2 separate regions of the Homo sapiens genome follow, and region 1 is linked to region 2. The links come from fine-mapping of genetic effects on gene expression. A gene starts in region 2. The other region holds a variant in brackets. All regions are shown on one strand. Distances are from middle to middle.

What was found. PIP is the estimated chance that this variant, and not a neighbour inherited with it, causes the effect. A credible set is the group of variants that fine-mapping cannot tell apart.
Region 1: its variant is the best candidate, but not a certain one, in a credible set for the expression of ARSH in esophagus mucosa (GTEx, PIP 0.74).

Annotation. Positions count from the first base shown.
Region 1 is chrX:3,017,074-3,031,998 of GRCh38, forward strand. It overlaps ARSH (arylsulfatase family member H), which reads left to right. Exons shown (of 9, transcript NM_001011719.2): 5 at 1,461-1,597; 6 at 6,948-7,082; 7 at 10,240-10,402; 8 at 12,174-12,295. Among named protein-coding and RNA genes, the nearest start is that of ARSF, 17 kb to the right of the region's middle. The variant G/A (reference allele first, on the strand shown) is at 9,544.
Region 2 is chrX:2,998,057-3,015,498 of GRCh38, forward strand. It overlaps ARSH (arylsulfatase family member H), which reads left to right and starts at 8,490. Exons shown (of 9, transcript NM_001011719.2): 1 at 8,490-8,648; 2 at 11,974-12,095; 3 at 14,991-15,116; 4 at 16,914-17,337. The coding sequence starts at 8,557.

The sequences.
Region 1 (14,925 bases), 18 kb after region 2:
CCAACACAACCATGAGAACAGTGATCAGCCACCCACTCAGCTCTCCATTCATCTTACCTGCCCTTCCCGTCCCAACCCATTTGCTTGGGCTATCTTTTTGGGAATATATTCAATCTCCATCTCCTTCCCTTCTTTCTATGCTGGTTGTGAAAAATGTGTAAAGGAGTAGCTTTAGAATGACTGCATGTGACATTAAAATGCAAAACACAAGGTCAGGTGTGGTGGCTCATGTCTGTAATCCCAGCACTTTGGGAGGCTGAGGCAGGAGGATTGCTTCAGCCCAGGAGTTTGACACCAGACTGGGCAATATAGTGAGCTCCCATCTCTACAAAAAATGTACAAAATTAGCCAGGCTTGGTGGCGTGTACCTGTGGTCTCAGCTCCTTGGAAGGATAAGGTGGAAGAATCACTTGAGCCCAGGAGGTTGAGCCATGATTGCACCACTGCACTCCAGCCTGGGCAACAGAGTGAGACTTTGTCTCAAAATAAATAAATACATAAAATGCAGAACACAAAAAGCAAGATGTAAATGAGGGGAATTTATTTCTCTCTTGGGGTAGGCAGGCTACAGATACAGTGAGGTTATCTTGTTCTCTGCCATCCTTTGTGAGCAGCCTCATGGCCCAAGGTAGATGCCAAAGCTCCAGCCATCAGACTTATGTTCCAGGAACCATGAAGGAGGTGGAAGAAAGAAAGAAGGGAAAATGGAGAGTAAGGAGCATCAAATCCTTACTGTGGCACATCTGAGTCTGTCCTTAAGATATGATTCTTCTGAACTCATACCTAAAAGAACACTTTGAAACAATAGATGAGGAGAATTCATACTTTTTAACCCATTCAACAAAGATTAAAAGATTTATTAAGCTGCTACTTTATGTCAGATGCTAAACTGGACACAAGAGAGTATAAAATGAACTGCGTTAAACATTTTTGTTGTTGTTGTTAAGACAGGGTCTCACTGCGTTGCCCAGGCTGGAGTGCAGTGGTGTGATAATAGCTCACGGCAGCCTCCACCTCCCAGGCTCAAGCGAACCCCTTGCCTCAGCCTCCTGAGTAGCTGGGATCACAGGTGTGCCATTAAGCACAGCTATATTTTTGTATTTTCTGTAGAGACGAGGTCTTGCCATGTTGCCTGGGCTGGTCTCACACTCCTGGGCTCATGCAATGCTCCTGCCTCAGCCTCCCAAAGTGCAAAGAATATAGGCATGAGCCACTGTGCCTGGCTACATGAAACATTTTACTGGGAACACAAATGTTCTGTTATCCTTCATTCCTCCTCATATCCTTTCAACATAAATCTTGTGGTATTTACGACTCACAGGAGTGGTATTGTCATCTAAAGTACATAGAAAACCTCCGCCAGCTATTATGAGATCTTTTCATCAGTGCAGAATCGCATTTAAATGATGGAAATGACTTCATATTTGTGAAGGTAATTTTGGTAACTTTCTACCCCTTAGGTACAAAAGGGAACCTTTTCTCCTCTTTTTTTCCTTCCTGCACGTACATACTCCACTCATCTCCAAAAAGAAGTTTGTTGGGCGCAGTAAATATGGCAGGTATGGGGACAATGTAGAAGAAATGGATTGGATGGTGGGTAAGTATTCAGTAACAGAACTGTAAATATCTGAAGTACGGGCTACAGAAAAACAAATCTGTACTAACTGTCTCAAATTATGTCCAGCCCCTTGCATAGCATAGATACCTGAAAAGTATCTGTTTCATCCCTTAATTGGATTAAAAGCTGGCTTTTAATTGTTCAGCAATACCAGTGAAATATATTCCCCAAGATAAGTCACAGTTTGTAAATACAAGTTTTCCCATCTTTAAAATAAAGACAGCCACTTTTCTGAAAAACTCATTGGCAAGATAAAGAAAGCTGCACTGTAAAGTATATTGTAATTCCTGGCCGGGCACGCAGTGGCTCACACCTGTAATCCCAGCACTTTGAAAGGCCAAGGCTGGCAGATCACTTGAGGTCAGGAGTTCTAGACCAGCCTGGCCAACATGGTGAAACCCCATCTCTACTGAAAATACAAAAATTAGCCAGGCATGGTTATGCGGGCCTGTAGTCCCAGCTGCTCGGGAGGGTGAGGCAGGAGAATCACTTGGATCCAGGATGCAGAGGTTGCAGTCAGCCAAGATGAGACCACTGCACTCCAGCCTGAGTGACACAGCGAGATTCTGTTTCAAAAAAAAAAAAAAAAAAAAGAATATTGTAATTTCAATTCCCAATTATTTTGATGGATATAAAAGGGAACGTTATTCTGATTAGTCAGTTCTACAGGAAATACATAGAAAATTGGGATGGGGATTTAACACAACTAAAGCAACTTATTTCAAAGGCATAGTGTTCACTATAAAGAAATGCTAAGGATAATAAATGAGCAGGTGGGAAGAGTTACTGTATGCATTCCAGAATAATAAATAGCTGTGCTAGTTGAATTGCATTTGCCCACCCCCGCCTCTATGTACGTGACAGAGTTGTCCTTCCTCTCAGCGATGGTGTTTCATTTTGGAATACAGTACTTTTCTTCTTCTTCTGAGTGCAAACTTCTGAAAACGGTGCTCTGCCGAACCATTGAAACGAACAATCTCCCAGTTATCAGCCGCCTCTGTTGACTTATATGGAGTGCCTTTGAAAGAAACAGAGCTATTTTAATTTAAATGCATTTAAGGGGTGTTAATCAATCACATTTTATTATAAATAACTTTCTTTTCTCTGAAAACCACCATCTAAGTGAGCTATAAAATACTAGTTAAAATTACTGAAGAACTAGTGGTGTCGGATAGGACAAAGAGGGGAATCTTGTCATGGGATAAATTTCTCTTGTATATTTCCACTATGTGTGTTTACCTCTAATTATAGGTACCATTGTAACATTTACTGTCTATATTTAATCCCAAAGAGGAGATAGAATACAGAGAGGGGCCAGGCGTGGTGGCTCATGTCTGTAGCCCCAGCACTTTTGGAGGTTCAGGCGGGAGGATCACTTGATCCCATGAGTTTGAGACCAGCCTGGGCAACATACCAAGGCTCCATCTCTACAAAAAAATACAAACATTAGCCAGGCATGGTGTCACACGCACGCCTTGTAGTTCCAGCTACCTAGGAGGCTGAGGTGGGTGGATCACTTGAACCTGGGAGGTGGGGGTAGCAGTGAGCCGAGATTGCACCACTGTACTCCAAGACCCCGTCTCAAAAAAAAAAAAAAAAAAAAAAAAAAAAAAAGAGGCCGAGTGCGGTGGCTCACGCCTGTAATCCCAGCACTTTGGGAGGCCGAGGCGGGCGGATCACAAAGTCAGGAGATCGAGACCATCCTGGCTAACACGGTGAAACCCCGTCTCTACTAAAAATAGAAAAAATGAGCCGGGCGCGGTGGCGGGCGCCTGTAGTCCCAGCTACTCCGGAGGCTGAGGCAGGAGAATGGCGTGAACCTGGGAGGCGGAGCTTGCAGTGAGCCGAGATTGTGCCACTGCACTCCAGCCTGGGCGACAGAGCCAGACTCAGTCTCAAAAAAAAAAAAAAAAAAAAAAAGAATACAAGGAAAGTCAGTGCTGCCAGGCTGCCAGTAAGGCATTTAAGCAGAAATGGGGAGAAAAAAGGAATGTGTTAAAGGGAAAAACTTATGGGCTTAGTTAAAGGGAACTAACCCTGACATCCAAACCCTTTTGAAGCTTGCTGAACTAAAGCTAAGCTCTGTATTTCTTAATTTAATCTTTGCTGTGGGATGTGTATGTGTGTGTATATATATACACACCCAGCTGCAGTTATTTTATTTGCACGGTATAAATTACAAATCACTTTTATGCATAATACTATAGTCAGATTTAATATGAATTAAGCTATATACACACACACACCATATGTTATATACATATATATATACACACACCCCATATGGTTTATATGTATACACAAGTTATGTTTTATACATATACACACATAGCACTGTATGTTGCATATATACACATTTATTATATATAGTTTAATTCCTTGGTAACGAAATACAAACACTGAAAGGTGTTACAGTTAAAAATAGCTATAACACTGTAGCCTTTATGGAATTATATAATTGGGATTTTTTTTTTTTCTCTGCTTCTTTTGAAATCGCTTACTATAGTTGTACTTAGTCAAAGGACAGTTTCCCGTAAAGGGATTTTCTGTTAAAGTCTATATCTGAGTGTTTATCACTAAGAAATAATTATGTTTGTTTTACAGTATATGTAAATACATGATGAAGACGTGTTACAAAAGCTAGCAATTGCATTATTAAATGGCTAATATTATTTGACACAGGAGAAATGATGAGTAGCTATTTTTCTGCGTAACATCTCCCAAATATTCTGAGTTTTCTCCGTCATTTCTTATAAAAATTCTACCAAAATAAAGACATATTGAAAGTCAGACAGGTATCTCTGTGGGTATTATTTTACTATTTAACAATATGAGTATAAAACTCAAAGGTTTAGTAACTTATTAACTTTACTCAAAAATAAGCCATAACAATGCTATACTCATGCAAATGCAAATACAACGTGCAAAATGAACTTAATGAATCTTCGGGAATTCAGTAACATTTTAAACTTTCCAATGAAAGAAACTTGTGCCTATTAAAAAACACTTTTAGTCCTTTTTTTTTTTTTTTTTAAGACACAGGGTCTCACTCTTTTGCCCAGTCTGGCTGGAATGCAGTGGTGCGATCACAGCTCACCACACACTTGACCTCCTCGGCTCAGGTGATCCTCCCACCTCAGCCTCGTGAGTAGCTGGGACTAAAAATGTGCACCACCATGTCTGGCCAATTTGTGTGTGTGTGTGTGTGTGTGTGTGTGTGTCTCTGTGTGTTTTGTAGTGGAGTTTTGCCATCTTGCCCAGGCTGGTCTCGAACTCTTGGGCTCAAGCAAACTTCCCACCTCGGCCTCCCAAAGTCCTGGGATTACATGTGTGAGCCACCAGGCCCAACCTTAATCACTTTTCATTATTGGTTTCTTTCCAGGTGTCTTTGGTAGGAGGTCTTATAAGTGACCTATTACCATTAGTATTTATATATTCATATGCATCTGTGTGTTTTCACTTTAGACACTATACAGACAATTATTTGCAAATATATTTGTTCTGGAACAGAAAAAGAATTTGCAGCTACTATATTTGCACAGTATAAATTACAAATCACTTTTATGATTTTTTTATACTATAGCCAGATCTAATGTGAATTGATAATTTACATATAATTATGCTGTTCCCAGAAAGCCTTTACAATCTTTCATCTTACAAACCCTGGGCTTTAAAATATCTTAATTTCTAATTATAGCATTTCTAAAAAATAGTATATGTCACTTCTAAAACAAATCACTGAGTTTACGTATAAACAGTTTTCTGTGCAGCTAGTTAAGCTAGTTACATTTTCTTTTATCTTTGAATGGGACAAGAGCATAGCACAGAGATGATCTAGTGTAAACTAGAAATGCAGTGTGACCTCAGGCCCAGGACGATGTTATCTGTTGATTAGCAAATGCTCAACAGACATCAGAAAGGAAATGAATGTTGTTTGGAATTTTGCTAGAACAGCTTTCTACTTATTATTTTAAAAAACTGTCCTCCTGAGGGATTGTCAACACATTAAAGACAGTGTCTGCTGAGTCTAGCGCAGCATTAATTGTCATTAGATCTTAACCATAACCCAAACAGCAAGAATAACCTGCAATTTCCATGTAGACTTCAGATAGCAGCCAGGACAGCAAGTCTCTAAGGGAGGTGGTGCTGTGCCCTGGAGTACGGGGATGGCTTTGCTCATATGTTCCTGGAGGTGTCATTTTGCAAACTGTATTTTTTTAAATTAATGTTCATCGGTTTATTTAACTGCTGGGCCTTCTTGGCACTGTCTATTTGAATCGTTTGGGGCAATGATGACCTTATGTATTATTACACGATTTGTATAATAAAATAGATTTTATTATATATTCAATAATAAAATAATGAACACATTATACAATAAAATTGTATAATAAACCAGTACTTTATATATTGTATATGAACTATTCTACATTTTAAATTAATATAATTAATGTATCTAGTATATTTAATATAATTTATATAATTACATTAATATAATAAAATTAATTAAAGTAATATGTGACACATATCATTCAATTATATAAAATAATATAGTATATATTTATATAAAGATATAAATTTATGATAAAATTTAATATATTAATTAGACATATATTATAAAATTTAATATGTTCATTATATATTATACATTTATTACATATACTCATATTTTATCTTATAGTTAATATATTTTCCTATGTCAATAAACATATATTTTTACATATTGCATTGATATACAAAATACTATATAATAAAATAATAGTTACATGTTATTATATAATTACATAACAATTTTTACACAATGATAAACTATTATATAATGATATGTTTCTAGTATTGTAAAGTCATATGGTATAATAATACATAGTATGTATTGATTGTACATATTACAATATATTTTGTTCTATTCCATAATTGATTATATTTTAATATATAACAATTCTTTATGCATTTTTAATACATCATGTTATATATTAATATGTATTTGTAAGAAATATGTACTATATATCATACAATATATAATAAATATATAATTAGTAATTCAAATGTATAAAAGTATGTATTATAGTAAATATAGCATATATTATACATTATTACATTATATATTAAATATTTTAACTGCTGGATATAATATATATTATATACACTATATTACGTACAGTTTAAAATAGTATGTATTACAATATTATATGATTAATTATACAATATCGTGTAGTGCAGAATAACATTGAAACGCTATGTGTAATAAATACATAGTAGCAGATATGTAATAAAGCAGTGGTGATCTGCATCAAGAGGTCAACGTCTTTGTGTCTCTGACCCTCTCCAGGTAAAATCCTGGATGCCCTGGACCAGGAGCGCCTGGCCAACCACACCTTGGTGTACTTCACCTCTGACAACGGGGGCCACCTGGAGCCCCTGGACGGGGCTGTTCAGCTGGGTGGCTGGAACGGGATCTACAAAGGTGATTGTGTGTAGAGAACCAACGCCTGTCCATTTTAAATCAGTAGTCTCTATTGGCTTTGTGTTTGCTTGAATTCATTTGCCATGATGTTCAGATATTTTGATGTGAGTTAGACTCTTATTAAGCTAGACCGAAAAAAAAAAAAAGCTGCAAATTTTGGGGCAGTTTCCAAGAGCTTCAAAGTAAAATGTTTGAAGCAACGCCAACCCCAGGAGACAGCACAGCATCTCAATGACCATCTGTGGCAGATGTCCCAGCCTCCGCACGATTGACATTTGAGGCTGGAGGATTCTCTGGCTGGGGGCATCCTGTGCCGTTGTAGGTGTTGAACAGCGTCTGTGGGCTCCACCCACACATGCCAGTAGCACCCACCGCAGAGCAGCAACAACCAGAAATGTCTCCTGATATTGCCCAGTGTCCCCTGGGGACAAGGTCATTTCTAAGTGAGAAGTGCTCCTTTAGATTAATCCTCACTTGGATTCTCAGATGCAGGTTTTTAATTCAATCACACCAATGATGCTATTCATTATGCTTTAACTAGTGTTATGTGGATCAGAAAAAAGAGTTTTTCATTTGACTGGGGTGCCTAGCTCCTCATGGCCAGCAGATTCTTCCAGCTCACTTTGATAGACTTCATGCCGGGTTGTTCAAGAACTCCATGGCACCCACTCTTAGGCATCACCAAAGGCATGCCAACAGAAAGAATAATTTAAAAAAGAATTCTGCATTCGCTATTTTCCCCCTACCCGCTAACCTTCCAAGTAAAACAAAAAAACTAAAAGGGTATCAAAATCGTCATCATTATAAAATCAGAATGTTTGAACTTCCTTATATTTCATTAAAAAGTTCTGTGTGTGTGTGTCTTATATATGTATTTTCCTGGAGGTATAATCACTATGTATATAAATTCACCGTATTAATTGTATGTAATATAATATAGAATCATATATATTCATCATATGTGATATATAATCCTATATATAGTCACTATGTATATATAGTTACTATATTCATTACACATAACACATATAATCCTATATATATTCGCTATATTCATTATATATAATACATGTAATTTTACATATTTACTACATATAATATACATAATCCTGTACACATTCACTATGTATATATAGTCATTATATTCATTATATATACACACATAATTCTATATATTTACTATATTTATTGTATAGATCATTATATATAATTTTATATATTCAGTATATATAATATAATATATAATACTATATATATTTACTATGTCTATAGTCACATATTAATTATATATAGTATATAGAATTCTATATATTCACTGTATAGAGTATACATAACCCTACACATATTCACTATATGTACTCACTATATTCATTATATATTACACATAATCCTATATATATATTCACTATATTCATTGTATATATATAGGATTGTGGATACTGGATTATATATTGTAAATTAATAGAAGTGAGCTCCTGAAAGCATTCACCTCCTCTGGCTTGTCATGTGGACTTGCTGTAGTCATAACTGTTAATTAGCAAAGACTAAATTGGTGCTAAACCTAGTAGAAAAAGTGAGGAACAGATCTGAGTCACCATATATATGCCATCTAACGAAGTGTGATTATTACAGTCATGATGATTCTAACAACTGTACCTATTATATATTATAATAATTATTATAATTGCATGAGTATGTGTGAGTGTAAAGCCCCTGTCCTTAAAAAGCACACATAACCCTGGAATAGGACTGGCAAAATTGTTGTGAGCATTTCTCAGGCTTTGGGACAGGATGCCTGTTTCTCAGGGTGCTTCCTGTGAAGCGATGAATTCAATGGATAGAGAGATTTAGATCTCCTGGGTAAGCAATGGGTTTTGTTCTAGTCTAGTTACACCTCGCAGCTCTGCCCCACAAAGATACAGGTTATTAAATACGATGAAGAAAACATCAGGATGGCTTTATGATTGTATGTTAAAAGCACATAGATTTGGTTCAGTGAGCTTGTCGAGTTTTTCTTATAATAAAGAATGGTGCTACTTGGGAGGCTCAGGAGGGAGGCTCGCTTGAGCCCAGGAGTTGGAAGCTGCAGTGAGCTATGATTGCGCCACTGCACTCCAGTCTGGGTGACAGAAGGAGACAGTGTCTTAATTAAAAAAAATAAAAATAAAAAAAGAATGGTGCCAAGAAGCTGAGCTGCCTTTCAACACTGGTTAGACTGGTTAGATCAGTGAATGTGTCAGCAGTGAATTTTACCTCATTTTCTGCTAGAGGCTTCCGGTTTTGTGTTTCTTTGTAATGCTGCCTGTCAGACAGGTGCGCACGTAGAAGACATTCAATGAAAATTTCACATAGGAAGAGACCTTTTCCTCCAGAGAGGTTCCTATTTTTTCTTAAAGAGTCTAGACATATGGTCTTGACACTGGCATTTGGCATAGGGCCATTTTTCTATTCTGTAACAACC[G/A]CCTCAGTCTCATGATTGATCTTACGGCAAGGGCTTCATTTTTGTTTTGTGCTCAGAAACACCCAAGGGGACTTTTGTCTAAGAAGTGATTCTCAACTCTGCCTCTGGCCATTTTTCTACTCACACTCCTCTCTTTCTTCCTCTATATGGGAAATCACGGGGTAAAGTTTTTTAGCTTGTTCCTCAAGGATCATTATAATGTGGATAAAACCTGTATTTTTCTTTTCTTTTTCTTTTTCTTTTTTATTTTTTGGAGACAGAGTCTCACCCTGTCACCGAGGCTGGAGTGCAGTGGCACAATCTCAGCTCACTGCAATCTCCACTTCCTCGTCTCTGATCCCCCGACTTCAGCCTCCCGAGTAGGTGGGACTACAGGCATGCACCACCATGGAGTGCAGTGGCGTGATCTCGGCTCACCACAACCTTCGCCTCCTGGGTTTAAGCGATTCTCCTGCCTCAGCCTCCCACGTAGCTTGGATTACAGGCGCCCACCACCATGCCCAGCTAATGGTTTTGTATTTTTAGCAGAGACGGGGTTTCACCATGTTGGCCAGGCTGGTCTTGAACTCCTGACCTCAAGTGATCCGCCCACCTCGGCCCCCCAAAGTGCTGGGATTACAGGCGTGAGCCACCGTGCCCGGCCAATATGGTTGGGTTTTAACTCATCTTTGGTTGTGTCGTAATCTTTGGTTTTAGGTGGCAAAGGAATGGGAGGATGGGAAGGAGGTATCCGTGTGCCAGGGATATTCCGGTGGCCGTCAGTCTTGGAGGCTGGGAGAGTGATCAATGAGCCCACCAGCTTAATGGACATCTATCCGACGCTGTCTTATATAGGCGGAGGGATCTTGTCCCAGGACAGGTATGGAAACAGTGTTTGCTCCTAACCTAGGGTGATATATTTGAACATAAGTGGATATACTTGATAATTCTATGTGTGTGTGTATGTACATAGTATATTACTTAATTATCAATATTCTGCCCATAGGGCCAGATGTCTTTCTCCCCTTGGTGCGTGGTGGAATATTTTGTTTTCTTCTTAGAGTATACCTTAATATCCTTTGTCATATTACACTTATGCCTGTGTGTGTTTGACTGTTCTCATGGATGGGATCTGATTCTCATACATCATCACATCCCTCACAGCTTCTAGACCATTATGCAATTAAGTGTTAAATGATTACTGAATAAAAACATGTATGCCTAGAGCAGGTGCGGTGGCTCGTGCCTGTAATCCTAGCACTTTGGGAGGTCAAGGCTGGCGGATCACTTGAAGTCAGGAGTTCGAGACCAGCCTGGCCAACATGGTGAAACCCCCATCTCTACTAAAAATACAAAAATCAGTCTGGTGTGGTGGCACGTGCCTGTAATCCCAGCTACCTGGGAGGCTGAGGTGGGAGGATCGCTTGAACCCAGGAGGTAGAGATTGCAGTGAGCCGAGATCTCGTCACTGCACTCCAGCCTGGGTGACAGGGTGATGCCCTGTTTCAAACAAAAACAAAAACGAAAACAAAACACGTATGTGTAATTGCATGTGTGCTAAATGATATTATTCTTTCTGGTTTGCACTTTGTCTATGAGCTTATTTTTAATTTAATTTAAATTTATTTTTTTTGAGACAGAGTCTCGTCCTGTCAGCCAGGCTGGAATGCAGTGGTGTGATCTCGGCTCAGTGCAATCTCTGCGTCCCGGGTTCAAGTGATTCTTCTGCCTCAGCCTCCTGAGTAGCTGGGACTACAGGCGGGCGCCACCATGCTCAGCTAATTTTTGTATTTTTAGTAGAGATGGGGTTTCAGCATGTTGGCCAGGATGGTCTCGATCTCTTGACCTCGTGATCCACCCACCTCGGCCTCCCAAAGTGCTGGGATTACAGGCACGAGCCACCAGGCCTGGCTTTGTCTATGAGCTTTAAAATGAACAAATACATCCTGTGCTTTAACGATTTAATTCCATGTATGTGGGGTGATATCTATTCATTAAATGTGAAGTTTTATTGGAATCAAAAGGGCGTAAATAGCTTAATTTTTCCAATCCACAACAGTAACTCATATTGTCTTGCAAGGTATCAGGATAATAGTTCTAGCTGTTCTCTTCTTCCATGACCTCAGAAAATGAATGTTTTGTTTCTCTTTCTTTTTGTTATAAAATGAGGGAAAAGGAGAAAGTTTTAAGAATTCCTTCTTCCGCCAGGCGCCGTGGCTCACGCCTGTAATCCTAGCACTTTGGGAGGCCGAGGCAGGCGGATCATGAGGTCAGGAGTTCGAGACCAGCCTGGCCAACATGGTGAAACCCCGTCTGTACTAAAAATACAAAAATTAGCAGGGCATGGTGGCGTGTGCCTGTAATCCCAGCTACTTGGGAAGCTGAGGCAGGAGAATTGCTTGAACCCGGGAGGCGGAGGTTGCAGTGAGCAGAGATCGCACCATTGCACTCCAGCCTGGGTGACAGAGCAAGACTCCATTTCAAAAAAAAAAAAAAAGAAAAAAGAAATTCTTCCTCTTTATCTTTCGCCTCCTTCTCTTCCTCCCCTTCCTTTTCCTCCTCCTCCTCCTCCTCCTCTTTCTTCTGCTATAAAATGCGTGACTGAACCATGCCTCTCTCATCACCTTCTACACACCCCCTTCTCTCCCAAGAGTGATTGACGGCCAGAACCTAATGCCCCTGCTGGAAGGAAGGGCGTCCCACTCCGACCACGAGTTCCTCTTCCACTACTGTGGGGTCTATCTGCACACGGTCAGGTGGCATCAGAAGGACTGTAAGTATGAAGGCTGTGGACACGTGGAAAGACGATAAGGGCCCGGTTCCGGTCTCCTTCGTCTCCTGGCGGAAGCTGCACCATGTGCAGATATTGCCCAGCTATGATGGTTCTTTTTCGCTGAGAAAGCCACATAAACAGTGCACTGCAGTAGGATTTTATTTTATTTTATTTTATTTTGAGATAGGGTCTCACTCTGTCACCCAGGTTGGAGTACAGTGGCGCAATCTCGGCTCACCACAACCTCCACCTCCCAGGTTCAAGTGAGTCTCCTGCCTCAGCCTCCTGAGTAACTGGGACTACAGGCACCTACCACCATGACTAGTTAATTTTTGTATTTTTAGTAGAGATGGGGTTTCACCATGTTGGCCAGGCTGGTCTCGAACTCCTGACCTCAGGCGATCTGCCCACCTCAGCCTCCCAAAGTGCTGGGATTACAGGCGTGAGCCACCGTGCCTGGCCTGCAGTAGGATTTTAGAGAGATGTGTTTGTGAGAGAGATTTGTGCCCAAAGGGTTTTATTTTAAATTTTTAAAATATTTATAAAATAGAGACAAGATCTTACTATGTGGCCCAGGCTGGTCTCGAACTGCTGAGCTCAAGTGATCCTCTCTCTTTGGCCTCCCACAGGTGTGACCCACCACAGCCGATCCACTCAAAGCATTTTAACTTAGGGAGGTGAGTGCTGACACAGACAAACCAATGCCATTGCAATATTTTCATGACTTAGATTTCCCGAGAGAAGGGGATATGCCCTACCACACAGGTTCACGGTGGGAAGCACCAGGGCTTGGCTTGGAAGCAGAGGCAGGAAGGAATGAGGAGCCCAAGCAACAGCCTTTATTATTAGGCTTTCCAAGGGAAAGGTCAGGCAGGGCAGGGTGAACAGCTTCACACTGGTAGTTTGAGTAATTACAGTAAGTTTGGAGCAACAGAGACTGCCCCTAGCTGCCTGGTACCCGGTGCTGGGTTGATTTAGGACAGAGAAAATATCAGCTTACTGTGTGAGAGTTAGATAAAGGAGGTGGATGCTTGCATAGGTAGGGTGTGTTCCTAAGTGAGTTGTTACTATTTGTATTAGTCCATTCTCACGTTGCTAATAAAGACATACTCAAGACTGGGTAATTTATAAAGGAAAAAGTGGTTTAATGGACTCACAGTTCCACATGGCTGGGGAGGCCTCACAATCATGGTGGAAGGCACATCTTACATGGTGGAAAGCAAGAGAGAATGAGAGCCAAGCGAAAAGGGAAATGCCTTATAAAACCATCAGATCTCGTGAGACTTATTCCTTACCATGGGAACAGTATGGCAGAAACTGCCCCCATATTCAATTATCTCCACTTGGCTCTGCCCTTGACATATGGGGATTATTACAACTCAAGGTGAGATTAGGGTGGGGACAGAGCCAAACCATATCGCTATTTTTAGGAATCAGCTAGTCCTGGGAGGAGCAGTCTTTCCCCAAGTCTATGAGGCCCCTCAAGCTGTCAAAATACTAGCCTGGCACAGTGGCTCACAGTTGTAATCTCAGCACTTCAGGAGGCCAAGGTAGGAGGATTATTTGAGCCCAGGAGTTTGATATCAGCCTGGGCAACATTGCAAGACCCTGTCCCTACAAAGAAAAAAAAAAGAATTAGCCAGGTATGGTGGCATACAACTGTAGTCCAGCTACTCAGGAGGCTGAGTGGGAAGTTTGAGGCTGCAGTTGGCAATGATCGTGCCACTGTACTCCAGCCTGGGCAACAAAGTGAGACACTGTCTCAAAAAAAAAAAAAAGTCAAAACATTATAGGATACAGAAAATTAAGACAACATGATTAATGTGTGTGTGTAAGTATGCATTAGCTTGTGTGAATGTATACATGAGAGAGAGAACAAGAGAGAAAGAGAGACTATGAATACCCACAGCTTAGGGATGACTGAAGTAATTATTCTAGCAACGAGGAGTAAATTCTTCAACATGACCTGCCGGGTGGTTGCTTATCTCCACCTTCCTTCCTTTCTAACATCCTAGTGATTGTTTCTGTCCCACATTCGTGCTATGGAAGTCATGCAAACAAATATAAATTAACAAATAGCATCGTTTGCCTTAGACCTGTAAAGAAAGGTCTTTTGGAGTCATTGCATGAAATTCCAGAATTCTTACTTGGTTGGATTTAACTTTATTTGCAGGAGGAATTTTCTCTGATGGGATCAGTCACTTGTGGTGTGATGTATCTTCATTTTGATGTGGATAGTCCCACATAAAACAATTAAAAAAACAAAAATAAGTAAATAAAAATCTATGTTTTTAAGATTCTATATGAGTGCAGGACATGATCAATGATAAATAAAACAGCCCCGTAAACAGCACAAGCCTCCCAAATTTAACTATAGAGGATTATACAGTAGAATTTTTTGTTATTATTTTTTCTCATCATAATTTCAGAAGTTGGGAGCATGGGGCTGACACAGTGCTCAGTGCCACGGTCATGGGACCAGGGTTCTTTTTTTCTACTTGGCCACCTCTGACATGCTAGCTTTCATTCTTGTGCATCTCACCTCATGGTTGCAAAGTGGCTGCAGTTCCTCCAAGCATCACACCTGCACTCCATGCAGTAAGGAGGGAAAAAACCAAAGGCGGTAAAGA
Region 2 (17,442 bases):
TGTCAACCCACCACCTAGGTATTAAGCCCAGCATACATTAGCTATTTATCCTAATGCTCTCCCTCCCCCTACTCTTACCCCCCAACAGGCCCCAGTGTGTGGTGCTCCCCTCCCTGTGTCCATGTGTTCTCATTGTTCAGCTCCCACTTATAAGTGAGAACATGGGGTGTTTGGTTTTCTGTTCTTGTGTTAGTTTGCTGAAGATAATGGCTTCCAGCTCTATCCATGTCCCTGCAAAGGACATGATCTCTTTCCTTTTTACGGCTGCATAGTATTCCATGGTGTATAAGTACACACTTTTTAATCCAGTCTATCATTGATGAACATTTGGGTTGATTCCACATCTTTGCTATTTTAATCTCACATTACAGTCATGGCTACGGGCAGCAGAGTGAGACCCTGTCTCTAAATGAATAAATAAATAAATAAAAATAACCTTGATTCCTTGCTAGTTGGAGAGAACATTGCACTGGTGGCTAGGACCATTCATGGTGATCCTTACTAATCTTGTCCTGGAGAGATGCTTATTAAAGGAGGGTGGAAATGGCTAAATATGGTGAATAAAAAGACGATATTCTCAATTCATCCATGTTTCTGTCTCTGTCTCACCTAACTATTGGGAAACTCTGGATTTTCTCGGTGTGAACTTTATGGGAATACTAAATAGTATATTAGGCAGTGGAGTTACAGACATGAGAACCAGAATGTGATATTTTTTAAATGTCACATTGTGGGCAAGTCTAATATAGAGGTATTAATTGGAAGTTGTGGGGTAGAGAAAATGGACCACTAAACGGTTAGAACGTGGGCTTCACCAAATGCCCCAAGGTAGTTAGTCTTTAAGGATATTACATTTGAGAGCCATATTGGAGGGTTGAAGTTGAGAAGATGGCCTGGGGAATTGGCTAATTTACACACACACACACACACACACACACACACACACACACACAGACTCCTGAGAATCAGTCCTTATTTTGAATCCCAGCTCTTCAATTTACCAGCCTTGTGAAAGTCTTTTAAGCGATATGAAACCCAATTGCTTCTCCTAGAAAACGGAAGAGTCATCATTAACCCTTTGAGGCAAGCGGGGTGAGATATTTTGAGGATCAAATAGTAACAAGTGTGTGGAAATGCCTGGGGAATTATAAAGCTCTGCTAACATTATGGCGGTGCTATTAATCTTTATTATATATTATTTGTCTTGTGGGGCAGTTCCTCAGCCTATAAAGCCTCACCAACTTGGAATCACTTGAGGATTCTAGGCAGGGAAACACCAGATTGTACCACTGGTTGCATTCTTGTAAAAATATCTTAATTACAGCTGCTAAACATGTCTTCCTCCACCAAACAAGTCTGGCCTCCATGACTATCACAGGTCTATGGTGTTTCTTGTTGTGCTTTTTAAGGTAGATACCACAGTTGATCCAGTATGTGTAAAAACAAAGTGCTTTCCAGAACAGTACCACACATAAATTAGATCTGATACAAAGCAGTTATTGAATATATGCACATTCATTGATTACTGATTTACTTTACTGACACCAGAATAGTAGGTTTTTGTTGCTATACCAACGTAATTTCTTGTAACTCTGCCATTAGAATTAACCTGAGCTGCATAGACCATGCATAGAATTTTGCCTTATTCTTTGTGAGCAAATATCACTTATTTGCAAATACGTTTAAAGAATGTGCTGGGCTGGCCAGGCACAGTGGCTCACACCTGTAATCATAGCACTTTGGGAGGCCGAGGCGTGTGGATCACTTGAGGACAGGGGTTCAAGACCAGCTTGGCCAACATGGTGAAACCCTGTCTCTACTAAAAATACAAAAAATTAGCCGGGCATGGTGGTGCACACCTGTGGTCCCAGCTATTTGGATGGCTGAAGCATGAGAATTGCTAGAATCTGGGAGGCAGAGGTTGCGGTGAGTCGAGTCGCTGCACTACACCCTGGGCGATAGAACAAGACTCTGTCTCAAAAAAAAAAAAAAAAAAAAAGAATGTACTGGGTTTACTGGGTCACCACAAAACAATCTAGTTAAGCCTTTGGACCATTATCTGCCTAGCTATGAGGAAAACATTTGCTTTGCAGATGCTCTTATTTTATTCTTCTCTTCCTTAGATAATCTAAGAAGAAGCCATGAAGCAATTGCTGTATGACTGGTGAGCTGGCAAATTCACGAACATTCATCACTCTCCATTTCTAGAGAGAAGGATTCTTTGTCAAGGTTTTCTCTATCCTGGAGGACTTGGGTTAAATATGTGCTTAAAATGTCCTTTATGAGGGTGGATTATCAATTATTCCTCATATTTTATTCAAGCTGTGCTTTCTATTTTTTGTCTTTTATTTATTTATGTAATTTTTTTCTTTTTTATAGAGATTGGGTCTCACTATGTTGCCCAGGCTGGTCTCAAACTCCTGGACTCAAGGGATCCTCCCATCTCGGCCTCCCTAAGTGCTGGAATTAGAGGCATGAGCTGCTATGCCCAGCCTACTGTCTATATTTTCAAGCCATAACTAAATTCACACTGGTTTATGATGTTCATATCATCTTTGTGGATTTGTATTTTTATTATTCTATAATAGTCTTGCCATTCTATATTAATGATTTTTCAATTGTAATTTTCTTCTGGCTGATGTTATTATTGTTACAAGTTTCTTTTGATTACTACTTGGCTGGCCTACTTAGATGTTTACATCTTTTTAGTTTCAAGTTTTGTTTGTCATTAGGTTTTAGGTGTGTCCTTTAAGAAAGACATAGGACAGATTTTTAAAAATTAGTATGGGATTCTTTAATAGGCAGGTAAACCCACCCACATTTGTTATAAATATTAAGATAGTTGATCTTATTTCTGTCATCTTACATGCTATCTTATATTTTCAAGATTCTCCTGTGGTTTTCTTTTTTCCCCTCTTGCTTTTTACGGGCTGCATTAAGGGTTCTCTGTTTCCTGGCTGATATGGTTTGGCTGTGACCCCACCCAAATCTCAGGTTGAATTGTAATAATCCCCACGTGTCAAGGGAGGAGCCCAGTGGAGATAATTGAATCATGGCAGTGGTTTCCCCCACACTGTTCTCATGATAGTGAATGAGTCTCATGAGATCTGATGGTTTTATAAATCGGAGTTCCCCTGCACAAGCTCTCTTGTCTGCCTCCATGTAAGATGTGCCTTTGCTTCTCCTTTGCTTTCCACCATGATTGTGAGGCCTCCTCAGCCATGTGGAACTGAGTCTATTAAACCTCTTTCCCTCCCACCTGTAATCCCAGCACTTTGGGAGGCCGAGGTGGGCAGATCACGAGGTCAGGAGATCGAGACCATCCTGGCTAACACGGTGAAACCCCATCTCTACCAAAAATACAAAAAATTAGCCGGGCGTAGTGGTGGGCGCCTGTGGTCTCAGCTACTCGGGAAGCTGAGGCACAGGAGAATGGTGTGAACCTGGGAGGTGGAGCTTGCAGTGAGCTGAGATCGTGCCACTGCAGTCCAGCCTGGGCAACAGAGAGAGACTCTGTCTCAAAAAAAAAAAAAAAAAAATTACCCAGTCTCAGGTATGTCTTTATTAGCAGTGTGAGAGCAGACTAATACACTGGCCCATCCTTCTCCCCTCAAGTGGCCTGGTAACTGTACCTCATGTTTCCCTTAATCATATTAACATCATTATTAACTTACCAAAATATGATGGTTAATCTCTATTTCCAGCTTCCTTTTGAAGAAAGGAAAGACTGGAGAATGTTTGAACACTACAGTCCTACCCCCCCCGCCCCACCTTCCTCCATGTAATTACCGCTTAGTGAATTATTTACTCCTTTCCAAAATAATAATAATTAATAATAGTTTCTGTCAATGCGTATTTAATGTTATCAACATGTTTTATCTCTTTTCAACATCTTTTCTTATGTCTACCCTTTTATTTTTATTTATTTATTTTTGAGACAGAGTCTTGCTCTGTCACCCAGGCTGGAGTATAGTTGTGTGATCTCAGCTCACTGCAACCTCCACCTCCCAGGTTCAAGCGATTCTCTTGCTTCAGCCTCTCTAGTAGCTGGGATTACAGGCACATGCCACCATGCCTGGCTAATGTTTGTATTTTTAGTAGACAAGGGGTTTCACTATGTTGGCCAGGCTGGTCTCCAACATCCAACCTCAAGTGATCCACCTGCCTCGGCCTACCAAAGTGTTGGAATTACAGGCATGAGCCACTGCACTTGGCCTGTCTACTCTTTCTTTCTAAGATAAGTTTGCCTTTTGCTGAAAATATTCCTTAGTAGATTTTCATCAAGAGTTTTTGGGTTCATGTACAATCCAAATGCCTGTAATCCCTATTCATTCTTCAATGATGTATTAGAAGGGTTTGGAACTCTGAGTTCAGAGTGACTTTTGTCTCAGCACTCTGGAAGCAATGGTCCCTGGTCATCAGGCATCCACTGTGGCTGTTGGGAAGTCTCTTGACATTCCAGTTATCCTCCCATTTTAGGTTATCTGTGGTTGTGTTTAAACCAAGTGCCTCTGTCTCCATCATTGCCCTTTACTGAGCTAGGTCTAACTGGAGGTTTTTAATTTTTTTAACTGGGTTCAGTCTGAAAACTTATGTCTGTCTTCAATCCTGAAAAATTCTTAGCCAAGATATCTTTCAATGTATCATCTCCCTATCCTCATCCTTAAACCCTCTTAATAGTAGGCTGGGACTTTTTGTCCAAAACCATAGAATGTACAACAGCAAGAGTGACCCTTAAATTAAACTATGGACTTTGGGAGATAATGATTTCTCAATGTAGGTTCATTGATTGTATCAGATAATGTACCATCTTGTTGCCGGGTGTTGATAATGGAGGAAGCTATTACATATGTAGGGGCAGGGGATATGTGGGAACTTTCTGTACCTATGCTCAATTTTTCTGTGAACCTAAAACTGCTCTAAAAAATAAGTCTATTTAAAAAAAAACATGAGCTTGAGATTTAATAAAATAACTACTATTAATATTTAAAAAAGAAATAGGTCAGACACTGTGCCTCACACCTGTAATCCCAGCACTTTGGGAGGCTGAGGTGGGAGGATTGCTTGAGCTCAGGAGTTCAAGACCAACCTGGCCAACCTAGTGAGACCCCCATCTCAATTTAAAAAGTTTTTAAAATAAAAATATAAACATGAAATAGAAGGGAAGATGGATGGATACAAAAGGATTTATGATATAATATTTGAGGTTGAATTAGGAGGACTTGGAATTGATTGAATGGAATTTGGAGTTGGGGAACCTGACTGAGGGGATATTGGTCTTCAATTCATAGTGATCATTTTTGATCAATGGCTGTTGTGAATATTTCAGGATATTGTACAATTCAGCTGTTACAAGAGGGTTCTTTTACAATCTAAAATTTAGGCCGGGCGTGGCGGCTCACACCTGTAATCCCAGCACTTTGGGAGGCCGAGGCAGGTGGATCACCTGAGGTCAGGAGTTTGAGACCAGCTTGGCCAACATGGCGAACCCCATCTCTACTAAAAATACAAAAATTAGCCAGGCATGGTGGTGCACACCTGTAGTCCCAGCTACTCAGGAGGCTGAGGTGGGAGGATCGCTTGAACCTGGGAGGCAGAGGGTACGGTAAGCTGAGATCGCGCCATTGCACTCCAGCCTAGGTGACAGAGTGAGAGACTCCGTCTCAAAAAATACATAAATAAATAAATAAATAAATAAAACTTAGTAGATCTATTCCAACATTGACCCATTGAAAAATAAAATAAAATTTAGTAAAATCTGCCTTTCATTGAACTAATTGACAAAAAAAATTTAGCAGAATCTCAAAAATGTTAAATTTTCTTTCATAGATTTTAAATGATTTCTAGATTGTTTTTGAAGTGGAATTTTTTCCACCTGATTTCTTCTATGGACATATGTTCTTGATGAACCAAAGGAGAAAACAGTTTCTATACACACATGTGTTCCATCCCCAAATATCAGTGTTTCAGCATCTAGTTCTGGGCTTAGATCTAATAAGTTACTGGAGCTTCTGTTATAATTGCCCCCACCCCGCTCCATGTGGCTTAGAGAAAACCTTTGAGGTTATAAAATGTATTAAAAAGTACAACTGAACACTTGAAAAATCAAAACTGACTCGCTCTTAGTCTCTGATTTTCCATTTTGCTTACTTTTTTTTTTTTTTTTTTTTTGAGAGAGAGAATAGTTTAATAAAGCTCTATCAGCCAGGCGCGGTGGCTCACGCCTGTAATCCCAGCACCTTGGGAGGCCGAGGCAGGTGGATCACGAGGTCAGGAGATCAAGACCATCCCGGCCAATGTGGTGAAACCCCGTCTCTACTAAAAATACAAAAAACTAGCTGGGCGTGGTGGCGGGCGCCTGTAGTCCCAGCTACTCGGGAGGCTGAGGCAGGAGAATGGCGTGAACTCGGGAGGCAGAGCTTGCAGTGAGCCGAGACTGCGCCACTGCACTCCAGCCTGGGTGACAGAGCGAGACTCTGTCTCAAAAAAAAAAAACAAAAACCCTAAAGCTCTATCACTCAGCTTCAAAAAAAAAAAAAAAAAAAAAAGAATACGTGAATACTGACAGAGTTAAACCTTGGAAAGTTTCTTTTCTAAAAAGGAAACTTTAAAAGTTTTTATTTTTAATTGACAAATAATAATTGTTTATAGGCTGGGCACGATGGCTCACACCTCTCAGCACTTCAGGAGGCCGAGGTGGGAGGATCACCTGAGGTCAGGAGTTCAAGACATGCCCGGCCAACATGGCGAAACGCCATCTCTACCAAAAAAAATACAAAAATCAGCTGGGCATGGTGCCACACACACATACACACACACACACACACACCCCTATAAGCCTCATAAATATGAACAATTATTATTATTTTTTGAGACAGAGTCTCTCTCTGTTGCCCAGGCTGCAGTGCAGTGGCGCGATCTTGGCTCGCTGCAACCTCCGCCTCTCAGGTTCAGGCAATTATCCCTGCTTCAGCCTCCCGAGCAGATGGTATTACTTTTTTTTTTTTTTTGAGACGGAGTCTCACTCTTGCTACCCAGGCTGGAGTGCAGTGGTGCAATTTCAGCTCACTGCAACCTCCGCCTCCTGGGTTCAAGTGATTCTCCTGCCTCAGCCTCTGAAGTAGCTGGGACCACAGGCGCGTGTCACCATGCCCGGTTAATTTTGTATTTTTAGTAGAGATGGGGTTTCACCATGTTTGTCAGGCTGGTCTCAAACTCCTGACCTCAGGTATTCCACTTGCCTTGGCCTCTCAAAGCACTGGGATTACAGGCATGAGCCACTGTGCCCGGCCTTGGTTACATTTTTATTCAATAAAGTAAACAAAAAAGTTTTTTTTGAGATAGGGTCTTGCTCTATTGTCTAAGCTGGAGTGCAGTGGTGCATTCATAGCTCACTGCAATCCTGACCTCTCAGGCTCAAGCAATCCTCTCATCTCAGCCTCCTGAGTAGCTGGGATTATAGGAATGCATCACTATGCCCAGCTATTTTTGTATTGTTTGTAGAGATGGGGTTTCACCATGCTGCCCAGGCCAGTCTCAAACTTCTGGGCTCAAATGATCCACCCGCATTGGCCTTCCAAAGTGCTGGGATTACAGGCATGAGTCACAGCACCCGGCAAAATTCAATTTTTAGAGCTTACCCTCAACTGTAACCCCTGTTATAAATTTTAAGCCTCTGATGTCACTAAAACAATATCAAAAGATGTTATAAGAGTTAAACCTCATCATGCTTGCAAAATGAATTGGTAAAATATGATGCCATATTCGTATAGAACAATGGTCTCCAACATTTTTGGCACCAGGGTCTGGTTTTGTGGAAGACGGTTTTTCCACAGACAGGAAGGGGGTGCAGGATGGTTTCAGGATGATTCAAGCACATTACATTTATTGTGCACTTTATTTTTATTATTATTACACGATAATATATAATGAAATAATTATACAACTCATCGTAGTGTATGATCAGTGGGTGCCCTAAGCTTGTTTTCCTGTGACTAGATGATCCCATCTGGGGGTGATGGAAGACAGAGACAGATCATCAGGCATTAGATTCTCATAAAGAGCACACAACCTAGATCCTTTGCATGCACAGTTCACAATAGAGTTCTCGCTCCTATGAGAATCTAATGCTGCTACCGATCTGACAGGAGGTGGAGCTCAGGCAGTGATGCAAGCAATGGGGAGCGGCTGTCAATACAGATGAAGCTTCACTCATTTGCCCACCACTCACCTCCTGCTGTGTGGCCTGGTTGCTAACAGGCTACGGACCAGTACTGGTCCATGGCCAGGGGATTGGGGACCCCGGTATAGAACATTAGTTTTTGTTGTTGTTGTTTAATCTAGTTTCTGAGTAAGACAACACAGGTACGTTGTACAGTGAGAACTGATAACGAATATCACTGTTTCATATGTTAAGTTATCTAAAATGCAAATGTTAATTGATAGTGCCTGGTTTTTTGCTTGCTTGTTTGTTTGCTTATTTCTAAAAATGCTTTCAGGAGCTGCTGGCTGTCAGTGTCCCTGTGCTGTTTGTTTTGCGGTGTTGATGGCACATTTATGACAAGAAACGCCAGACCCAACATTGTCCTGCTGATGGCAGATGACCTTGGAGTGGGGGATTTGTGCTGCTACGGTAATAACTCAGTGAGGTAAAGATGGACTCTGACCCCCTCCCTGTATGTGGGAGTCTCCCTTACCACAGTGTTCACGTCTTTGCCGTTGCAGAGAAGGGTTTCTGGAGAGAAGTCATTGTCTGATGTTATCGGCAGGAATAGCAGAGGTCACTGGGGAAAATTGCAAAATGTCAGGAGACCACTTAACCTCCCAGTTTCCTTAGATTCTAGCTGTTGGTGGTGGCGTTTTCATTGTTGGGCAAAATTTACATTTAAAAATTGGCCTTTTTTGATCAGGCATGGCGGCTCAAGCCTATAATCCCAGCACTTTGGAAGGCCAAGGTGGGAGCATTGCTTGAGCCCAGGAGTTTGCGATCAGCCTGGGCAACACAGGGAGACCCCGTCTCTACAAAAATAATAAAAAAAAAAATCTACTGGGACATGGTGGCGTGTGTCTGTGGTCTCAGCTACTCAGGAGGCTGGGGCAGGAGGATTGCCTGAGCAAGGGAGATTGAGGCTGCAGTGAGCTATGATCCCACCACTGCACTCCAGCCTGGGTGACAGAGGGAGACTCTGTTTAAAAAAAAAAAAAAAAATCACCTTTTAACCATTTTAAAGTGAACAATTCAGTGGCATTTGGTACATTCACAGTGTTGGACAACCGTCACCCCCACAAAGAAGACCCCCATTTCCCATCCTATCCCCATGCCCTGTTAACCACAAATGTACCCTCTGTCTCTATGGATGTGTCTCTTCTTAGAATTTCATATACAAGTAATCATATAAAGTATTTATTTTCTCAGGCTGCCGTGACAAAGGTCCACAGACTGGTTGGCTTAGATAACATCAGCTTATTCTCTCACAGTCCTGGAGGCTGGAAGTTCAAGATCAAAGTGTGGGCAGGGCTGGTTCCTCCTGAGGCCTCTCTCCTGTCCTTGTAGATGCCGTCTTCTCCCTGTGTCTTCACAGGGTCGTCCCTCTGTGTGGGTCTGTGTCCTCATCTCTTCTTCTTATGAGGTGTCTTAGTCTATTTCAGGCTGCTATAAAAGAATACCATAGACTGGGTGGCTTAGAAACAACAGACATTGATTCTCCCACAGTCCTGGAGGCTGGAAGTCTGAGATCAAGGTGTCTGCAGGGCTGGTTCCTCCTGAGGCCTCTCTCCTGGGCTTGGAGATGCCGTCTTCTCCCTGTGTCCTCACAGGGTCATCCCTCTGTGTGTGTCTGTGTCCTCATTTCCTCTTCTTATAAAGACCCCAGTCCTATTGGATAAGGGTCCACTTTAACGACCTCATGCTACCTTAATCACCTCTATAAAGACTCCATCTTCAAATACAGTCACATTCTGAGGTCCTGGGGGTTAGGACTTCAGCACAGGAATTTGGGAGGGACACAATTTAGCTCATAACATATGGTAAGTGGTGTTTGGTGACTGGCTTCTTTCACTTAGCGTGATGTTTTCAAGGTTCATTCATATTGTAGCATGCGTCAGCACTTCATTCCTTTCCATGGCTGAATACTTTTTCATTATATACATACACCACATTAGTCTACAGTTTTAAAAATATCTTCCTTGAATTACTTCTAAAGTCTCTGGTACCCGGGGCTCTTTATTTCTCTACTCTCTATCGATAGACCAATCTGGCTCTTGTAAAAATACATAGCATCTTTTAGTGTGGATTTAAATAACATTGTTTCTTCTTGGAATGCAGATCACAGTCTAGTCCTATATCTTAAGCATATATTTGTTGATTGAAAGGCATTGGTCTTCTTCTTCTTATTTTCTTTCTTTCTTTCTTTCTTTCTTTCTTTCTTTCTTTCTTTCTTTCTTTCTTTCTTTCTTTCTTCCCTTTTTCTTTTCCTTTCTTTCCTCTATCTCTTTTTTTTCCTTTTATTTTTAAGACAGGATCTCATTCTGTCATCCAGACTGGAGTGCAGTGGCATGATCTTGGCTCACTGCAGCCTTGACCTCCCAGGCTCAAGTGATCCTCCCTCCTCAGCCTCCTGAGTAGCTGGGACTATAGGCATGAGCCCCCACACCTGCCTAATTTTTGTGGTTTTTCTTTTGTTTTGTTTTTTTTTTGTTTTTTGTTTTTGTAGAGGTGGGGTTTTGCCATATTGCCCACCCTGGTCTGAGCTCAAGTGTTCAGCCCCTCTTGGCCTCCCAAAGTGCTGGGGTTACAGGCGTGAGCCATCACACTCAGCCTCCATTATCATCTTTCTGTGGGATTATGGAAAAAAAATGTTGTACCCATGGGATCAAGATTGGATATGGTTTAGCTTTTAGGAGAACAGGCACGTCTTTTTTTTAACCTATAAGTTTTACAAAATTTTTGCAATGTATTAGACAAACAAAATGGGAAATAAATTAAACTCCAAAATGTCACAATTTGGTCATAAAATAGGTCAATTTTACCGTAAGATATATATTAATGGGAGGCTGAAGTGGGAGGATCATTTGAAGCCAGGAGTTTGAGACCAGCCTGGGCAAAATAGCAAGACATGTATCTCTGCATAAAATTTTAAGGCCAGGTGTGGTGGATCACACCTGCAATCCCAGCAGTTTGGGAGGCTGGGGAAAGTGGATCACTTGAGGTCAGGAGTTCAAGACTAGCTTGGCCAACATGGTGACACCTCATCTCTACTAAAAATATACCACTGGGCGTGGTGGCTCATGCCTGTAATCCCAGCTAGTCAGGAGGCTGAGGCAGGAGGATCACTTGAATTGGGAGGCAGAGGTTGCAGTGAGCTGGGATCGCACCACTGTACTCCAGCCTGGGTAATAGAGTGAGACCACGTCTCAGAAAAAAAATTAAATTAAATACAAATTTAAATAAATTAGTAGGGCATGGTAGCGCACACCTGTGGACCTAGCTACTTGAGAGGCTGAGGTGGGAGGATCACTTGAGCCCAGGGAATTTAAGGTTGCAGTGAGCTATAACTGCACCACTACACTCCACCCTGGGCAACAGAGCAAGAGACTGTCTCTTAAAAAAATATGAAACACATTAAAATTTTACTTAATCTAAATTACCCATTAATTTTAGGTCCTTGATAAGAAGAAATTGGCTAATTTTTCCATTGAAATACATTTTTTTCTCAGACTCATAAAACTGTATACCGAGTGACCTGTATTCATTTGTAATAGTTTTGACTAAAGATATATTTTAAACTTATGTTTCCATTTGCTTCTAACCATCAATGCATATAAGGAAATAGACAGATTAAAGTTTTAAAAAGATGGATTTTAGGTTTACCAGAAATAGAGTCAACTTGACCCAAAATAGAATAGCTTTGATCCTTGATCATTGTATTGAGAATTTTTAGAAACTCACCTGCTGAATTCTTCTTTGGTCTGCAGCACACCTAATATTGACCGCCTGGCAAGTGAAGGAGTGAGGCTTACCCAGCATCTCGCAGCTGCTTCCATGTGCACCCCAAGTCGGGCTGCCTTCCTGACCGGCCGGTACCCCATCAGATCAGGTGAGGCAATAAAAAGGCAGCAACATTTCAGTCTCACCAGAATGCATTCTAATGATTAGTTTTTGCAAATCTTTATAAGAATTCTCAAAAGGTCACTCAGAGTATTAGGGATCTAAATTCAAAGGTGGTTGTTATCCCTGGGCAGCTTAAATATGTGTGCCTCTCACCAGGTACCACTGCACCTGCTCATCTCTGTGCATATAGCGACAGGGTTTAGGCCTCTTGGGGGCAATTTGCCAACTTATGGTCAACACTCCCATTTTCAGGTACTTGTGCTAAGATTTCTCAAGAGACCCCTGATGTCTTTAAGCTAGCAGAGACCATGCAGTGGTTCTGAGATAAGTGGATCAAATCCACCTCTGTGGATGAGATTGGAAAACTAGACACAGTTGGGAAAAAAGGTATAACTGAGAAAACAAAAAGGAAATGAAACTTTTACATACTCCCTTACTTGACCCCATCATTTCAAGATTTAGACTTACCAAGTTGATATAACGACAATTAAATGTGTTCCTTTGCTGCTTAGCTTAGGATCAATACCTACAAACATCCACTCAAGATCAATATTATGAACAACAATTTTTATACCCAGCTAAAATATAGTGGTGCCCTTAGACACTATTGAAGTGTTCATGGTTATCAGACTCTATGTGAAATATCGTGTCATGCTGTTGCATTTTGTTTAATTCTAGTATTTGCTTGTCATAATTTTAGTATACCTGCCTTCACAGTTTAATTTTTCAGTGAAAAATTTTTCTGTATGAATTTTCTTCCTCCTAAGTAGTAGATTCTCATCCAATACATTCAAGGAATGAACTAATTAGGTTAATGAGAATTATACTAAAATTAAGAGTAAACATTAAAAGTTTTTGTCCCATAAATATTGATTTATTATTATCTTTTTTTGTTGCCTAATGACCTTCTTTCATAATTCAAGGTTCTCCATTTTGTTCAAAATAGTTTGGTTTCTAGATAAGCAGTCTCTATATAACACAGTACCGTGTATGAAGAGGGATAAAGATATGAATTTGTATGAGTTTCCAAAAAAAACTACACTTATAATTTCAGGATTTCAGGATTTTTTCTTTTTTTCTTTCTTTCTTTTTTTTTTTTTTTGAGACAGACTCTTGCTCTGTCATCCAGGCTGGAGTGCAAGGGTCTGATCTCAGCTCACTGCAATCTCTGCCTCCCTGGTTCAAGTGATTCTCCTGCCTCAGTTCCTGAATAGCTGGGATTACAGTCATGCACCACCACACCCGGCTAATTTTTGTATTTTTAGTAGAGATGGGATTTCACCATGTTGGCCAGGCTGGTCTTGAATTCCTGGCCTCATGTGTGATCCACCTGCCTTGGCCACCCAAAGTGTTGGGATTACAGGAGTGAGCCACCATGCTCTGCCTAATTTCAGGGAATTTTAAGTATTGATTATGGTGAAATAAAATTTATTTTTAAAAATTAAGAAAAAAATTAGGTGATTGGTGGAGAGATTTCAAGTCATTGCCATGTGTATATTTTTAATCATTTGACACAAACGGTTCAGTTTAATTCATTCTACTTATCAAAAATTTCAGCAAAACAGTTCAACAGCAAGATAATGGTCTAATGCTTCCCTTAATAAAACTGTTTCTCTTTCCTATCAATGACACTATCTAGAGTCTACTTTCTTCTTCTTCCAAGGTAGGATCCTTGAAATATACTTTTTTCTTTTGAGATGGAGTTTCCTTCTTGTCACCCAGGCTGGAGTGCAATGGCATGATCTCAGCTCATTGCAACCTCTGCCTCCCAGGTTCAAGTGATTCTCCTGCCTCAGCCTCCTGAGTAGCTGGGATTACAGGTGCCTGCCACCAAGCCCAGCTAATTTTTGTATTTTTAGTAGAGACAGGGTTTCACCATATTAGCCAGGCCGGTCTCCTGATCTCAGGTGATCCAACCACTTTGGCCTCCCAAAACACTGGGATTACAGGCGTAAGCCACTGAGCCCGGCCTGAAATTATCATTTATTTATTTCTTGCTGATCTTCACTTGTGGTTTTCTTGTGAATTCCTTTTAAACTATAGGTGTATAATATTGTCCACCAGTATAAATCTACATAAAATTATATGGAGGCCAGGCACGGTGGCTCACATCTTTAATCCCAACACTTTGGGAGGCTGAGGTGGGTGGATCACGTGAGGTCAGGAGTTAGAGACCAGCCCGGCCAACATAGTGAAACCTCGTCTCTACTAAAAACACACACACAAAAAATAGCCAGGTGTGGTGGCACACATCTGTAATTCCAGCTAGGGAGGCGGAGGCACGAGAATTGCTTGAACCTGGGAGGCGGAGGTTGCAGTGAGCCGAGATGTTGACACTGCACTCCAGCCTGGGTGACAGAGTGAAACTCCATCTCAAAAAAAAAAAAAAAAAAAAAAAAAAAAATATATATATATATATATATATATATATATAATATATATATGTATGTGTATATACACACACACACATATGAAAAAGAAATTGTCACTCCTACACTTCTTCATTTCAGATTCTCAAGGATACTTTTAAAAATGTATTTATACCCAGCTAAAATGCAGTAGTGTCCTCAGATACTATTGAAACATTGAAGGTTAGCAGCCTCTATATGAAAAACTAACGAAGGTTATTTGTTGTTAGTCTGAAATTCAAATGGATATAACTAAGTGTCCCGTATTTATTCTGGCAACCCTAATTCCAAGGGAATGTTTGCATTTAGCAAGTGAAAAAAGGAGGGTCAAGGACGTACAGCCAGAAAGCAACAGAAAACTTGGGGAAGAATGGCTTTGAGGAGGTGCGGGAGGAGAGGACTTTAAGCATGTCGGGATAAATTCGGTATTAGCAAAGACTATGGTGCTAACTTATTGACTTCTGTGAATTTAGGGATGGTGTCTGCCTACAACCTGAACCGTGCCTTCACGTGGCTTGGTGGGTCAGGTGGTCTTCCCACCAATGAAACGACTTTTGCCAAGCTGCTGCAGCACCGTGGCTACCGCACGGGACTCATAGGTATGGCGCCGGAACTCTGCCCGTGGAAACGTGATCCTGCAGCCTCTCTGTCATCGTGTCTAAGGTGTTTCCGGGGATGTTGGCTTTGTGCGCGCCAGTTTGACCGACTTCTCTTTGAGATAAGACACTTGGAGAAGGAAATGATCACACATTGATTGAGCATGTGTAGAATCGAGGGCATAGTATTGGAAAAACAATGAGAACAGAAAGCAAACAAGTGTATCCAAAGTTGCCACTAAAATGGAATGTTGTGTTGGAGGGATACGATGTTTGTGACACCATTATTAGCAGAAAAACCAGTAAATTTGTAGAGAAGTACTGTTGAAATGGGAAACTTACAGCATTAAGAGTTGTCAAATGGAGGCAATTGCTGGTCGACTTAGATCACTTAATATTCTATGCCCTTTTGGCGGGGGTGGGGGTTTGGGGCGGGGGGACATGAGCTTGTGAGGGAGCCTTTCACCGAAAAATAAGTTTGTAGAATTCCAGTCCTAGAAGATAGTCCTCTAAGAATAACTTGTGTGATCAAATCCTTTTGGGAAATGCTACTCAAAAGCATTGTACGGTCCACTATTTTTGAGGATTCCTAATGTGAATTGTAAGCCACAGCTCCGAGATATCCCCAGTTAAAAAAAAGGTTAAGAAATTTTCTATCAGTAGGGCATGTATTCCCATGCAACTCCCAGCAGCGTCCTGTGAGTGGGAATTCTCTAGATTAGCTTTGAGCAGCGTTCTTACATCATTAGAGCACGGGATTCAGATCTGACTCTGCTATTATTCATTAATGTGACTCAGGCTTCTGAATAAATCTAGATAGCTGGGCACAGTGGCTCAGACCTGTAATCCCAGCACTTTGGGAGGCTGAGGCAGAAGAAGGCCAGGAGTTCAAGACCAGCCTAGGCCACCATAGCAAGACCCTGGATCTACAAAAATAAAATGTTAAAATTAGCTGGGCATGGTGGCACGCACCTATAGTCCCAGCTACTCAGGAGGCTGAGGCAGGAGAATTGCTTGAGCCAAGGAGTTCGAGGCTACAGTGAGCTATAATCATGCCACTGCGCTCCAGCCTGGGCAACAGAGCAAGACTCTGTCTCTTAAAAAAATAATCTAGACAATGTGTTTTTTATTCATAATAAAGGGTCTGGGAAGTGTTGAATATAATAATGTGTGCGGACAAATCAGAACGTGACCTGGCCCCCTAGAGTATGTGCTTGATAAAAGGAATTACTTGCATTATCAGAATCGTTTGGTTCTTGATGAAATTCTTTGGCTACTTTGTCATCCCTAGCTTGAGGACCTAGAAGAGGTGTTCCATCTATACATAAAATCTCGGTTACCTTTCAGTGAGATGGAATAAGAGGGTCGGAAGGCACTGCTAGATAAAAGCATGAATGTGCAAGGTGCACTGAAAGTCCTTGGTATTGTCCCCACCAAACAACCAAGACATCGATTCTGCCCTCCTAGCAAGCTCCAGATACCTGGAAAGTTTCTCATTGTTCATGAGGTTGTTTGGTACCAAGCAAAAGGTTTCTTCTGAATGAACACTAGGCTCCTCTCCTTGTCGCAAGCAAAGAGGCTCCTGCTGCATGGCTTTTGTCTGAAAGAGGCATATTGTAGGGAGAAGGCTGTTGGTGGCATGTCTATACCAGGGAGGTATTTGGGGATATCAAGAAAAAACCATGATGACAACAGAATGAAAGTTATATTTGACTTTTCCAAAGGGAAGCCCACATTCTAGAAACAGACCGGCATTGAATGCTGCCATGCTGCCATGGTACGATTTTATTTTACTTTTAGGCAAATGGCACCTGGGTTTGAGCTGCGCCTCTCGGAATGATCACTGTTACCACCCGCTCAACCATGGTTTTCACTACTTTTACGGGGTGCCTTTTGGACTTTTAAGCGACTGCCAGGCATCCAAGACACCAGAACTGCACCGCTGGCTCAGGATCAAACTGTGGATCTCCACGGTAGCCCTTGCCCTGGTTCCTTTTCTGCTTCTCATTCCCAAGTTCGCCCGCTGGTTCTCAGTGCCATGGAAGGTCATCTTTGTCTTTGCTCTCCTCGCCTTTCTGTTTTTCACTTCCTGGTACTCTAGTTATGGATTTACTCGACGTTGGAATTGCATCCTTATGAGGAACCATGAAATTATCCAGCAGCCAATGAAAGAGGAGAAAGTAGCTTCCCTCATGCTGAAGGAGGCACTTGCTTTCATTGAAAGGTATTTAGCCATTTCTTGCCTGATTTCCTGCATGGAAATTTTATTTTTATTTCATAGGAGGTCATCACACCTTGATAACATGGGCCTTTAAAAGTCTCTTGGAGA